Regions from separate parts of the Homo sapiens genome. Here region 2 is linked to region 1. Evidence: fine-mapped expression QTL. Tissue or cell type: fibroblasts. Region 1 holds a variant in brackets; the other region holds the start of a gene. All regions are shown on one strand. Distances are from middle to middle.

Evidence for each region. PIP is the estimated chance that this variant, and not a neighbour inherited with it, causes the effect.
Region 2: it holds the start of LMO4, and the variant in region 1 is fine-mapped to the expression of LMO4 in fibroblasts (GTEx, PIP 0.93).

Annotation. Positions count from the first base shown.
Region 1 is chr1:87,762,359-87,770,096 of GRCh38, forward strand. No RefSeq gene overlaps it. Among named protein-coding and RNA genes, the nearest start is that of LINC01773, 140 kb to the right of the region's middle. The variant A/G (reference allele first, on the strand shown) is at 3,443.
Region 2 is chr1:87,325,155-87,332,892 of GRCh38, forward strand. LMO4 (LIM domain only 4) reads left to right here and starts at 3,726. Exons shown (of 5, transcript NM_006769.4): 1 at 3,726-4,090; 2 at 6,859-7,097. The coding sequence starts at 6,862. RefSeq lists silencers at 909-958, 2,928-3,097, 3,348-3,777, 4,701-4,790, 6,157-6,516 and enhancers at 3,636-4,213, 4,214-4,789, 4,355-5,900, 5,570-6,208, 6,209-6,847 and 1 more.

The DNA of each region.
Region 1 (7,738 bases):
ATAATGTGTGATAAATGAATAAATTAACGTAGATAACTTTTTTCTCCCAAGGGCTATCAGATTAATCTAAGACTTTCCTTAATGGCATTTAGTTTCTATATATCAAACTGAAGTTTTAAAAATGAATAGTAGATAAAAAAGCTGTAGCCAAAATGGAGAAGTCTGGTATAACTAAAAGCACCATTCCAAATATGAGGCAATTTTAAGCTATATCAAGACTGACTGCTAATTTATTTTTTAGTTATGTTTCTATCAAAAAATGGAATCTGGGCCGGGCATGGTGGCTCACGCCTGTAATCCCAGCACTTTGGGAGGCTGAGGCGGGTGGATGATAAGGTCAGGAGATCGAGACCATCCTGGCTAATGCGGTGAAACCCCGTCTCTACTAAAAATACAAAAAAATTAGCTGGGCATGGTGGCAGGTACCTGTAGTCCCAGCTACTCAGGAGGCTGAGGCAGGAGAATGGCATGAACCTGGGAGGCGAAGCTTGCAGTGAGCAGAGATCGCGCCACTGGACTCCAGCCTGGGCAATAGAGTGAGACTCCGTCTCAATAAAAAAATAAAAATAAAAAGTAACCTGAAGGCTAGGCTTGGTGGCTCATGCCTATAATCCCAGTACTTTGGGAGGCTGAGACAACAGGATCTCTCAAGGCCAGGAATTTAAAACCAGCCTGGGCAACATGGCAAGATGTTTTCTCTACAAAAAATATGGAAATTAGCCAGGTGTGGTGTTATGTGTCTATGGTACCAGCAACTCAGAAGGCTGAAGTGGGAGAATCACTTGATCCCCAGAGGTCAAGGCTGCAATGAGCTGTGATTGCCACTGTACTCCAGTCTGGCCGACAAAGCAAGACCTTCTCTCAAAAAAAAAAAAAAAAAAAAAAAAAAAAAAAAAAAAAAAAAAAAAGAACCTGAATGTTCCCAAGTGAGAGAATTGTTAAATGAACTAAGATGTGCTCATATAATTAAATATATCATACCAATTAAAATCTTTCTTCTGAGGAATTTTTAATGACTTGGGGAAAAGTTTATGTTATGTCTTGTGGGGGAAAAAGCAGAATGTGAAATTGAATATATAGCTCTATTGCAATTTTGTAATAAAGGAGGAGGAGAAAAAGAAGGAGAAGGGGGGAAAACACATATAATTGCAATCTCTATGTGGGAACATTTGGGGGTGAGTTTTATTCTTTATATATTTCTGCAGTTCCTAAAATGTCTGTAATAAGCATATAATAGTTTTATAATTGAAGAGTTACAAAACTATGAGTAAGAGGGTGGATCTGAATGAAAAAGAAAGCAAAAGAAGAAAAATCTACTTTTCAGTAGGGGAACTCCAAAGGAACCAAGACAGCAAATGTAGCAAATGTCAAGACCATAGCAATAAAGATGCTCCAAATGCATTGAAAAACTGAAAAACTTTTTAGCTTTTTCTCTCCCAGTTACTACCAAACATCCTCTAGTTCAAGAGGCACATTTTAGCATTCACAGGAAAACATTCTGAAATTGAACGGCCTACATTTCCTTTTCTTGTTTTCATCCAAAATCTATTAGTAAACTTTACAATAGCTTCTTGTAAGAGTTGATATTTTATAAATCTGAATTGTCAAATATAATTCTCAATTCTCTCTTTGCTCCTCTTCCTTCCTTTCTTCCTCCCTCCCCTCCCTCTCCCCTTTCCTCCCTTCTTTCCTTCCTTCCTTCTTTCTTTCTTTCCTTCCTTTGTTCTTTGAAACATGATTAAATGCCTACTGTGCACCAGTTACCATGCATGGGTCAAGTGGTATAGTGTGAATGTGACAAGTCCTATTTCTCAAAGAGCTAACAGTCCGGTGAGGAGCAGATGGTGTTAGGAAGAAAGGATGTTTTAATAAAGTGTGAGAACACTGCTATAGGGTAGATGACACAGGAAGCTGTAGAGGCATGTAGGAAGACATCAAACCCAGAGAAGGCTTCCCAGAATGACCCTGCAGCAGAGACCTGAAAGATGAATGGGAATTTGTGAGGTGAGAGGCAGCAAAGTGGAGAGTGTCCCAACAAGAGTAAAATATATATTCAGAGGCCTAGTGTGGGAGTAGACGGATGCATAGGAAGGTGGAGAGAGGGAAAGAGACAGAAACAGAGGGAAAGAAAGAGACAGCAGAGAGACAGGGAAAAAACAAAGAAAGCCAGAGAAGAGAGTGAGAAAGTTGGGAGAGGCACAAAGAGAGATGGACAGGGTGACAGAGAGAGACACAGAGAAGCAGACCGCAAGAGCAAGTCTGGGTGAACAGAAAGCAGTTCAGCCTAACCTGGGTACAGATTTTAAGCTGAAGAATGTCAAGGGCTGGGGCTGGCAAGGGAAGCAAAGACCAGAGTATGTCAATGGCTTTAGGCCTTGTGTGCTGTGTTAAGGATTTTGAGCTGAATCCTGCTGGATTGAGGTATAGGGTGAGAGTTTTAAGTATGGCGTGGTTTGGTTTCAGAAGGATCACACTGAATCCTGTGTGGAGAATGAATTACTTTTATGTCCCTAATCATCATGCACCTTTTTCAATTTGTCCTTTTTATTCAGACCCTGGGGATCCTACTTGGTCTTCCAGGCTCCCCTAATCTTCATTCTTCTAGTTAGTTAGATTTATTCACTTCTCTCAGATCTTTGCCTGTACTTGAAATGTGGCACAGCTCTATTTTGCTTGTGTCTGCCCTGGGAACAGTGTGGACTTGGCTCAGGCAGAACAGACTGCCTCTCTGTTCTACCACTTACTTACCATGTGGCATTGGACTAATTTTTAACACTCATAAAATCTCGGTTTTCTCGTCAGAATCAGTACCAATCTCATATAGTTTTTGTGAGGATTGGTTGGAGAGCTCTATATAAAATGCTTGGCCTGCGCTGGGTGCTCAGTGCTCATGACCCCTTCCTCCCGTGATTAATTCATCTCCATGGCATCCAGTGAAAGGGCTGCACAAAATAATTACCAAAGGAATGGTTGCTAAGTGAATGAAGACAATGTTTAATGGACTAAAATCTTCCAAGTCAGATATTTTTCCTTTGTTACTTTTGGACACATGTTTATCTGATTTTATTGAAATTCTTCTTAATAGTGGATGCCGTGATGCCCCTCACAGACCCTCCTTCAGGACTGCTGCTGTGAGTTGCCAGCACTGCCAGCAGACAGCCCTCAGCTACAGCCCTCTACTGCAAGTGGCTGGGCTGCCAAGATTCACTGCACCCTGGTCATGCCCATTTCCAGTCCTTGTAGAGAAGAAAGGGTGGTTCCTTCACCCAACTCTGCATACTTCCTTCCCTTCACTTCCAGAGCACTGATCGCCTGTAAACTGTGCACTTGTCCTTGTCTCAGAGGGCAATCTCTGGGAAAATATGTCTGATACCTCTGAAGTCGAATTTTCAAAATCCACCTTTTTCTTTATAAAGATGCCTTTAACATGCCTTAGAATGAC[A/G]TGAGTATTTATAAGTGACTGGCTATGTTTATTAAGCTTCCTGTAATGCAGGAAACATGACTATGAATGTTTCATGGTGTGCTCTTGTGAAACAGCAATTTTTCAGTGAATCCCCCTACTTCCCAGCTCCCCAGGGACAAATAAAACTTTCCTAGTCAGTGTTGGATGTAGGCAGATTCCAAGGGAACAGTTTTTCCCTATAATTTAAAATAGTAGAATTTATAATATGAAATTAAAAACAACATAAATTAGTAATTCAATCCCAGCATTCCAACTTAATGAACTAGAAGTTTTATTGCATTACTGTTTTGTTCCACTGGACCAATTTTTTGGTGTATGAATAGAAAGTTCTTCTTTATTAATAAGTATATAAAAAAGTTAAAGGTGCCTCTCTGCAATTATGTTGATGTCTCCTAGGAGCGCAAATTCAATAATTTAAAATATTATTTTCTTAGCATATTAACAGCCACAGTAGATAAGAGGGTAAAATTTGTGTCTCTTTAGTTTAAACTCCTTTTAAGTGCAGTGTAGCAAAGCAGTTGTTCCCCAGTGGCACATGAGAAGCACTTACCAGGAAAATTGTTATTGAATTAAGCTGCATAAAGTGTAAATAAAGGACATTTTTGACATCCAAAGAGTGACCAATGGTCAGGGATGTGTAACACCTTCATAAGATTCAAGTTGAATACAAGGTTTCTTGTCTTCCGGAAACAAAAGTGACGTGGGATTTTAGTTCTAGTTCATTTATTGCTATTTCATAATACTTTATCCACTATAATTTGGAACATACGACAGATGCAAAAATCTTATTACAGATATTTAAAAACTGTGTCAGTCTAGAAATTTCTCTAAATGCTCTCATCTCTAGACATCATGGTCCTTTAAGAGATCGTATTTGCCCCCAACGAATGTAGGTCCATGCTTGGAATGCCACTGCCATGTGCAAGATTGGCATTTTCTAACTGATTTCCTCAGGCTGCTTCTACTTGAACAGCCACGCCTTTTGTAGTCTATGGCCTTCCTGTTTGCTCACATCAGCTCTTGTTTATGCTCTGGCTTTTCTCCATTCTGTCTCCTTCAGCAAATCCTCTGTATCTTCAGCCTACTTTCAGATGGGCAGTAAGGTCTGTGAGGGCAAGGATCCTGTCTGTCTTGTTCCCAGCTATACTCCCCAGCACCCAGCCCAGTTTCTGATCTTGAGTAAGTGCAGCATACCTATCTACTGACTGACTGGATGAATGGGTGAATATCATACAATATCATAGCCAGATATGGGTGAATATCTGGCTTCCACTTTTGTTTCCTCTCTCTCTTAGCACTGTATATATGCAGATAAATAAATTTACAACAGATTCTTTTTAATCTTTTAATCCCTGGACCTTTCCACATCTACTACCCTTTAAACAGCTTTGTCATGATGAAGAATGAATATTTTATTGTTTGATGAACTTTATGGACTTTCAATATTCAAATATAATAAAAATGTTTAAGAAAAAAAATGAGAGGCCGGGCACGGTGGCTCATGCCTCTAATCCCAGCATTTTGGAAGGCCGAGGCGGGCGGATCATGAGGTCAGGAGATCGAGACCATCCTGGCTAACACGGTGAAACCCCGTCTCTACTAAAAAAATACAAAAAATTAGCCGGGTGTGGTGGTGGGCACCTGTAGTCCCAGCTACGCGGGAGGCTGAGGCAGGAGAATGGCATGAGCCCGGGAGGCGGAGCTTGCAGTGAGTGGCGATCGCACCACTGCATTCCAGCCTGGGCGACAGAGCGAGACTCCGCCTCAAAAAAAAAAAAAACACACACACACAGAAAAGAAAAAAATAAGAAAGAACTTTCAGGTTTAGTAGTGTGAAAAACTAGATATCCTAAACAATTATCCCAACATAAAAATTATATATTAAAAATATGTTAAATTTTAAAAACATTTAACCGAGTTGTCAAGAAGGTAGATAAATTTTTCAAGAACCAAAAATTAGTGAAAGCAGGAATTTAGAGTAGAAAGGTTTCTGAAGCCCCAAAACAAACAAAACCAAGAGAAGTGAGAAGCAATTGCTACTCCTTGGGGATCTAAAGTTCAGTTTTGGTGAATTTGAGGGATAAAGATAGTACGCAAATCTTAGAGACCTAACTTGGAGATTCTGACAGGAGCACCTCACATAAAGCCAAGACCACATGGGTCGTCATCCACAGGGGATATGTGAGTTAGGAGAAAGCTTGTCTTACAGGGGAATAGAGAAATTTACATTTAAGTGGAAAGAAAAATTCTCTCCTGTTAATTCATAAGCCAGCCCTCACTCAAATTTGTAGCCCTTACCTATTTACACTTTCATTTTGGCCAAAACTAATTCAAATCTATAAATTATTTAAAATATATCCTGATTTGAAAGTTTTAAACTGAAAGTAATAAATATCCTGTATAGATTAAAGCCCCTTGAAAGTAGGTCTCAAAGCATTTCCCCAGATGAAGTTCTATCAAACATAGAATTGGAAAAAATAGTACAAAATAAAATAGATTAATTATTCTGAGTGTACTGGTAACTACAAAACATTGAAATGAAGTAAACACTTCATTTAAAAGATAAACAGTGGGGGAAAAAGATGAATATTGGATGATAGAATATTTTTTAAAAATCCACGTATATGTTATTTATAAGAAAAATGTCTAAAATATATGACTAAGAAATGCTTGAAATTAAAAGAAACAACATAGAAATCAATAAAAAGGTTAGTATATGGTAATGATAAAATAATTCAAAATATATGTTAATATTAAAACTATTACTGGAAATTTAAAAAATCATTATATAATGTTAAAAGATTTAATGTACCTTAAAAATATAAAGTTCTGGATGTGTTAATTTCTATTAATACAGCCTAACGTGTATATATACATATATATATATATATATATATATTAGAACAAGAAGAACCTGATAAATCGGCTTTCATTGGGGGTATTCTAACACAATTCTTTCAGCAATTGCTAGATCAAGTAGACAAAAAAGAATAAGAATATAGATTTGAAAGCCATACTTAGCAAACTTTATCTAAAAGACTTCTATAAAACATGGTATCTAATTATTGAATATGAAAGTCAACCACCCACTAGACCATAAAGCAAGTTTCAAAAAAATTCAACTATTTATAGATGAATAACGAGTCAAGGAAACCATTATAATAGAGATTATAAAATACTTAGTACAGAAAAATAATTAAATTACTAAATGTAATAGATGTTTAAAACTTGAGAAATGCAGCTAATGTGGTCTTTAGAGGAAAAATTATAGCCTTAAATGTTAACACTAGAAAAATAGGAAAGTTCAAAATTAATGAGCTTTATCTAAATTGTAGAGTTAGAAAAAAAGTACAAGATAAACCTTAAGAAAATAAAATGAAGGAAATAAGAGGGATAAAAGCAAAGATTAATGAAATAGAGAACAAATACAGAGAAGAGAAAAATCAGTAAAACCTAAGGTTGGTTGTTCAAAAGATGACAAAATTCATAAAACTCAGACTAGACTAACCAGATACTAGTAAAACTTTTCAATATGAGGAAGTAAAGGAGGTCATTACAACAACAGCTATAGAAATTTAGAAGAATAATATCAACCTCTTTGTGGCAATAAATTTGAAAACATTGTTGAAAGGAATAAATTCCTAGAAAAAGCACAACCAAACAGGCTAAGAGGAAAAAAATAAAGAGGGTACATATTAACCGTTAAAAAATATTAAAACAGAGGTTAAAAATTCCCCATCAAGAGAATACAAAGATCAGGTCGTTTTACAGAATTGTTATACTGAATATTCAAGGAACACATAATTTTTACACATAAAATATGTCAGAGAACAGAAGAGGAAAGAACATGCCTCAAGTCACATTATGTGATTAGTGTATACTGAAAACCAGCACTAGATGACGACTGGATGAGATGGGCAAATCACAAGTCAGTCTTATATGTAAAAATCAACGCAAAATCTCAAACAAAACAAAATAAAACAAAAAAATGGAATCCTGCCATGTATAAAAAGGAAAACAGATCAAATCCCATGTAGGCTTATCACAAAAACTCAAGTGTGGTTTACAATTAGAAATTTTATTAACACAAACTTTATCATATTTAGCAGATTAAAAAGGAAAAGCCATAAAATCTCAATAGATTTGATAAGATTCAACTTTTACTCATGAAAAGAATATCTACAAAAATCCTATAACAATTATGATACTTGAAGGTAAATTTTAAAAGCATTTTCTTTAAATTCAGGAAACTGACAAGATGCCAGGTGTCAACAC
Region 2 (7,738 bases), 440 kb before region 1:
GAAGCAGCAGGTCCGACTATACTTACTGTGCCATACACCCTGCTGCTCAGACGACAACGCCACCACAGAAAACTGGCCCAGGACCTAACCTGCCCTTCCTCTTCCTTGGGTTTTTTCTGTTGGTAACTACTGTTCCCTTTTCTCTCCACACCTTTTACACTCTGGAATTGTTGTCCTAGACTCAAGCTTTTTGTATTCACGTTGGAGGAAACTGAATATCAAGGGATCTCTGTGATGGCAGCAATAAAGTTGAGCAGATTTTTAAAAATTTTCCTTCCTAAAAAGACTTTCTTCAAAAACGGTTTTGCATTGACTTTAAAAGGACAGAATATTTTTTCCTGAGAAAGAGCTGGGGCATGTTGTCTTGGAGGTCATATCAGCATCAAATAGCCTAGACTTTCTCCAGACATTAAAGGCTGCATAGGTCTGTGTAGAACCTCTGGCTGTCCATGGGAGATTCTTAGCGAACTGTCACTTGGAGAAAAGAATGATTATGATTGAAGGACATAAACGAGAAAGGAAGCTATGAACAAATAATTTTGGGGCAAGTGGAGAAAATGACGGCTTGATCTAGGAGCAGTATGGTTCCCACATTTAATTAGGATTCAAGAAAGAAACGATTTACATTTATCTTTCTTTTCCAAAGCCCCCTAATCTTATATCTCATTGCAGATGAGTAGGATGAATGATGAATGTGTGATATCAGCAGAGGTTTCGTCAACTGTGGGGCACAATATAACATTATTTCGAGTTAGGCAATTTTACTTCATACCAGGAATATTACTTTATGCACTGTTTTTAATATTTGTTTGAAGAATATCCGAATACAGAATTTCTTTACCCATACTGAATTTGTGTGTGTTTACAAGGTTTTTGTGTTTCGCATCAGTGGAAATAAAAGATTGACGTTGCTACCCACTCAACCAGGCATTTTCAGACCACAAATCAGGATGAGAAAGGACTGCTAAACGCAAAGAATGCAGAAATAAAGATTACCCAGAGGTGGCGCTGTGGTAAAAGTACACCTGAATTTTGATTACAGTGAATGTATTTACTCCCTACCTCTCAGAAGAGAGACTGTTAGCCATTATCGCTTTTGTATTTCTATAAACACACATCAGCAAATAAAGCTCTCTGGTAATACACTCCCATCCACTCCAATCTACCAGGACATGTTTAAAGACCTCACTCCGCACAGAATTAGAGCTGAAGCACTAAAACCACCTCCTAAAATGTAGGCCCTGTAGCCTAGAGCTCTGTTATTCAAAGTTTTATCCATCTCACTCTCCTTCCTTCCACAAACACCACCGGGATCCTCTGGATAATCACTCAATGATAGCTGAACATGTGTCTGGTTAAATTTCTAACATTTCCTTCAGGAATTAAGATTTCGTTTTAGTGCATATTCTTCAGGAAAAATCCTGAAAAGTACCACAATTCGTTATACATCTATGCATTATGTGCTCTATCTAAGAAAATCATTTTTAAAAAGAAAAAATAAAGACCATTTGGCTTAATTCTCTCATTTGTGGATGAGAAAATTAAGGCCCAGAGACGGAAATTTACTTGCACATGACAAATCATAACTTAATTGTAGCCCACTAAGATCTTGTGTCATCTCCTTTTATTATAAATTATTTAAAAAGTGAAAATGAACCAGGGGATTCAAATGTATTATTTGTTTATGGTGTTCCTCTCCTCATCTGGTTTAATTGAGTTTTCTTGACTAACCTTCAAGCAGCATTACATCTTTTCTAAGTTGGTCCTCTTTAATCATGCCCATCTGTAGCTGTTTTCTGTGTAGGACATTTTAATTACTATTATAGTTTTAATGACTTTTTTTTAAAAAAAGTTTTTTATATGTGCACAAGGTGAATTCATCATAGCAGTGCAACTTTAAATACAAATCAATAAAATTAATTCATTTAATTTTAAGGTGCTAGAATTAAAAAATGAGTATTTGAATTGATATTTAAAATGCCCTCTACCTGACTGTATGGGCAATAATTATTCTTTCTTATGCAGCCTTATTAATTTTGATGGTTTGAAAGACAGAAATCCCCCAAATAGACACTAAAACCCTAAATGTTCAACATCTGCATTGTCTCGCCAGATTCTCCTTCAGGTTCCTTTCCTCAATCTAGCAGTACTGTGTGTAACACAATATGAAAACTTGCCCCACAAGGCTGGTTTTACTTAATGATACTTAGCAGAAGGGCTTTGCACTTTCATGATAATTTCCACCAGAAAAATCTCTCTGGAACTTACTAACAATAATCAGGCCTAATATTAGCCTCAGTCTGGAGATTTATTTAACCTATTTGGCAGAGTAGATAAAGTCGAATGCCTAGGTATTCAAGCATCTAGGCTGTGCTTCGGCCTTGGAAAAAGACTCTCAGGCTAGCACCCTAAAAGCATTCCTCAAAACTTGATTTATACTAGAAGTGACATTTCTTACTCTCTAGAGGCTGTGAGATTGCAAATCTTGCAATTACTTCCATTGCTTTTGGGGGCTGTGAGAATTTCCGCCTCTCATCCTCCACAGTGAGGAGGGTAGTCGGGAAAGGCTTTCTCCCTTAAGTTTTCGTCAACTTTGAAAATAAGGACTGTGCTCCCTACATCACCAGCAATTGACAAGGATCCAGGAAATGCCTGCTAGGCACTTTCAAACTCGGAAAAATGGGAGTATGAGGGAGGCTAAGTAGGCAGTATTTAGCTAGCAACTATTATTTCCTTTATGTTTCTACCTTGTTAACTAAGCTTCCACTACGGTTCATAAATCTCCAATATCGTGAATTAAAGAAACAACAACAAAAATCCTCTTCTGTGTGCTTGTGCGTGAGGGGATAGAAGTCCACTGCCCTAAGATGCAGGACTTATCTTCCCAAACAGGAAGAGACCCATTTCTGAGAAAGATGGTAAGTTTCCTAAGGGTCTCCTCTCAGATAGAGGGGATGGCAGTCCCCGAGGGGCGAGCGGGCGCGGGTCCTCAGGGTCCCCGTGCGCTGAGAAGGCAGGTGAGGCCCCGCCCTGCGTCTCGACTCCGGATCCCGGGTCGCGAAGGGCAGCCCAAGCGGGTCCCCGGCCCCAGGCGCCCGGGTCACTTCACCCCACCTGATTCGGGCCCTTCCCTTCTCCTCTGTCGGCCAGCTCTGCCGCCTCGCTCTCTCTCCCGCCCCCCGAGTCTCGTTTCAGTCATCCCTTTGTCCTTCCCCGGATTGGCAGGTTTTATTATTCCGCCTGAACAATCCGGCCGCCCAGTGGCTGAGGGTCGCTGACGTCGGAGGCAGAGCCGGGGAGTAGTTGGGATTTTGCTCTGTCAGTAACACATGTGTAAGAGCCGCGGAGGGAGCGAGCGAGCCGGCTAGAGGCCAGCGCCGCCGCCGCCGCCGCCTCCGAGCCGGGCAGCAACAGCCCCGGCAGCGGCGCAGGCTCCAGCGCGCCGGGCCCGGCCGGCCGCAGCCCCCGACGCCTGGGTGCGCCTGCCTGCCGGCCTCCGCACCGTCCGCCGCCGCTCCCGGGGCTGTTGTGTCTGCGACTGCTCCCGGCCGGAGGTGCAGGGAGCTCAGCCGAGCCGCCGCTGCCATCCCGGAGCGAGCAAGCGAGCGAGCGCGCGGGAGGGAGGAAGGCGGCGGCGGAGGAGGAGGAGGAGCGGGAGGAGCGCGGGCGGGGGCGGGGGCCCCCGGGCGGGGGAATATACAAAGTGAAGCCACATTGCCAAACTTGCAGCAGCGATTGCAGCAGTTGCTGCCGCTGCGCCGCGCCTGAAGCCGCGCCGCGCGGGCCGAGGGCTCCTGCAGCTGCTCGCGCGCAGTCGGAGGCGGAGAAGGACGAAGACTGAGACTGACACTTCTGCTCCCGGCCGCCCGGCACTTACGCGGGGGCCCCCCAACCCGCCCCAGAGCAACGCGATTTAAAAAAAAAAAAAAAGCCGCCCTTAGCCCCCTCCTCCCCTTTCCTGCTTCTGCGAGAACTCCCTCCCTCCCTCCAGCTCCGCCAGCCCAGGCGCCCCTTCCCTGGAAGCCGAGCGGCTTCGCTCGCATTTCACCGCCGCCGCCTCTCGCAATATTGCAATATAGGGGAAAAGCAGGTAAGGGGGCGGGTGGAGAGCCGCGGGCCGGGAGGTGGGAGAGGGAGGGAGGGGGTCGATTCGGGCCAGGGCTGTTTTCTTTGGCTTCCTTCCCCTGACCGTCCCAAATTGCAAGTAAACAATACGTCGGCTTAGATAAAGCGCGAGTCTGAAACTACCGAGGCCGGCCTGCGAGCTAGCGCGGAGGGCAGCCCCGGGCCGCCAGCTTTGTAGCGGTTCCTGCTTACAAAAGGGCTCTTCTTGGAAACGGGGCTGGTGGGGACCGTAGAGGGGGTGGGGATATTTCTAGTTCATAAGGGAAAGGCAAGGGGTGCTTAGATGAGGATTTTAAGTATGAGAAGTAGTGTGTTTGGGGGGGTGGGGGTGGGGATAGTCACGATACCCCCCCTCCCTTCTAGTAAACACTATTTTTGAAACAGTGGCAGGAAGGATCTAAGTGAGCAGGATTCGGTATTGCTGGTTCTTTTAAAAAAATTCTTCTTGGCTTATAAGTCTTTTGTTCCAATCCAGGAGAAATACGGTGAATCACCTAATTAAAATCAAGACATGAATTAAGCATCCATTTTTGTACTACAAATTGCCAGCGTTACGTTTGTCCCTCCCTTGGTCTCCATTAAAAAACACCAGAGACGTTGTTAAAGGGGGGCAGATTTTGCCTCTAGCTGCCAGTTCTGCTTTCTATTTCACTGACTATCCCAGGACCTAAATTGCTTGGCTATGTAATTACTAGAGTATAAGCCTATTTAACTTAAAAGCTTTCTTTTTTTTTTTTTTTTTTCCAACTCTAAATGAAACTTGATGAGGGCCCGTCCTTAGTTATCAGGGGAGTCAGTTTCTGGTCAGTCTTCTTGATTCATCTCTTTTAGATTTAATCAGCATTAAGGTATTGCTTGTCCTTAAGAGCTTTAGCTAATGGGGTTACTGGATGCTTTTCTCAGTGTAATGTTTCCTTTTCAAAAAAAAAATACATATATATTTACCTCTCACTAAAGATGGGGGCGGGGAAGAGCTTGGAATCTCCTCCCTCACTCTCCTTTTAAAAAGGAATTCGGAGCGATTAAAACGTTGGGGGAAACAGTTTAAAGATCTAGGGCAGGAAATGCAGATTCATTTGGGTTAGGGCTGAAATTGTAACAAAAAGCAATTCCTCGAGTAAATGCATCAGATAAATCAATTTACATAAAGGTATGATGCATTCGGATAAATGCAATGCTAATGGGTTTTAGAGTGGTCCTGTTTCCAAAGTCTCAGGGTTTTGTTACAGCTTAATTGGTGCAGTTCTTATTCTGGTTTATTGTGCGGTCACTGGACACACGTTCCGGGACTCTTTCGGAGGAAATGTGTTTAAAATCGGCCTATTTAAGGAACCCGAGTCCTTGTTTCGTTCCTTCCTCGTTTTTTTTGCAGCAGCCAAGTTGGGCCGGGTACAGGCAAAGTTCGCCTTCTTCTGAGGTATCAGCTGAATGTCTTGAGCAGATAGCCGGGAGCCTCAGGGGGAGCCCACACTCTCAGCTTACAGAGGACAAAGACAATACAGGCTGCTTAATTGGCAGTAAATAACTTGATCTTTTTACAGAATAAGTGACTAGAGGAACACTAGGACTTTATTGGACTCGGGATTGAAGGCAACAAATTAATCGGTTTAGGCTAAGCTTTATAAATTGATTCCTATATTATATCCCAGTTGCATCTCTTGTGGCATTCATTAGAGTGGGGAATTCTTTTTTAAAGCAGTTTTTGGTGACAGCAGGACGGGCTCGAATTTAACTTGTGCATCCCTTAATGGTGCCTTCTCGCACATTATCTGTAACGCCGCCCGCCCCCCCCCCCCCCCCGCCCTTTGGAGGAACAAAGCTTTAGCATTTAAATTGCTGATCAAGGGCAGATTAGTGAGACCAAAGTGGAGAGTGTTTGTATAGGAAGTTAACAGGCATCCTAAAGTTCAATGATCTATTATTCTTGCCTGTGTCCTGAAAACCCAGAGAAAACACTCATTGATCTTCAAAATGAAATGAGATTTGGAACAATAATGGGAGATGGCGGTCACCACAATGGCATGTGAAAGGTGCTGCTTAAAATACGAAAAACCAGTTTCGCAACTTTACACACTGCACCCACCCCTCCCGTCACCTTGCCTTCCCTCCCATCACCACGCTCTCCGTCTCCCGTCTGCCGGTCCCTCCCTCGTTCCCTTTCGGAAAACCGAACTATTTCCAACTTGTGAACTGCAGCTGCACTTCCCGGGGCAGAACCCGGGAGGGAACGAGGCTCCGGCGGGGCCGCCGCCTCCCCACTCCTCTCGGCTCTGTCCCGGGGCCCGGCGGGGGCTGGGGAGGGGCCGGGCGCGGCGGTGGGTGGGTTTGACCCTCATTTGCTGGAGGCGGGCGGCGGAGGAGGGGAGGAGGGGGCAGTGGGCGGAGGCGGGGGCTGGGAGGAGGTGCCGCGAGGGGTGGAGCGCGCAGCGGAGCCTGCTCTCGGAGTTTTGACAGTACCGGAGCTGAAATTGTCAGCGGCGGCAAGCGCAGGAAAGTTGAGAGGAGCTCGTGGCCCCAGAACAAAGCTTGAGAAAAGTAAACAGGCGGCTGCTGCCGGCGAGCCTCCCTTCTTCCCTCTCCCCCTCAGCCTCCTTCCCGCCCTTGCCCTGCTGTTTCCTTCCAGCAGCTCCGCGGGGAGGAGGGGAATGGGCTTGCTCTCTCTCCGGCGATTACTAACTTTTGCATCGCCCCTGTTTTGTCTTTCTCTCCCTGTCCCCTTCCCGCCCTCTGCAGACCATGGTGAATCCGGGCAGCAGCTCGCAGCCGCCCCCGGTGACGGCCGGCTCCCTCTCCTGGAAGCGGTGCGCAGGCTGCGGGGGCAAGATTGCGGACCGCTTTCTGCTCTATGCCATGGACAGCTATTGGCACAGCCGGTGCCTCAAGTGCTCCTGCTGCCAGGCGCAGCTGGGCGACATCGGCACGTCCTGTTACACCAAAAGTGGCATGATCCTTTGCAGAAATGACTACATTAGGTAAGACTTTGCTGTCTTTCCTGGAGATGGGGGGAAGAGCAATGGCAAGGCCAAAGGTTAACAGGGTTGTGAGGAAAGGAGTAGGCGTCTACGGGGAGTATGCAGCCTTCACCTCAAAAATCTTCTAGTTGGCGGAATTTAAGGGGTTCAGGAAGCATGTGTTAGTCTTCCAATATCTGATGGCAAATTCATGGCAAATGCCATACTAAGTAAAGACCATCTGGTGGGACTGGGTCATTAGATGTGCAAAGGTTGAGCACCCTCTGGTCCTAGAGTTTAAGTAAGTGGTCAGCCTCTACTGGACTTCAGGCTAAAAGCAAACATCCCAAGCGGGAGTTAAGCTGCGTTCTTAAAACAAGGTAGGAACTCACAGAGGAACCCAGAAACAAAGGTTGACTTAAAAATACAAGTGTAGTTAGTGAGAAATGATTTGTCTATGGCGATGGCTTATTAACGATATTTACATAAGCATCTTGAAACTTTTTTGAGCGGAAGGCTGTGATTCGTTCTTTGTGCTCCTTGAGAAAAATGCTAATTATCCATCAGTTTAAAGACTTGTAATTCTTCTTATAGAGAAAAAAAAAGTCCCAAGAAATAAAACCTGGTGGTAATGTTTCTCTTCATACTGTTACTCGGAGGCT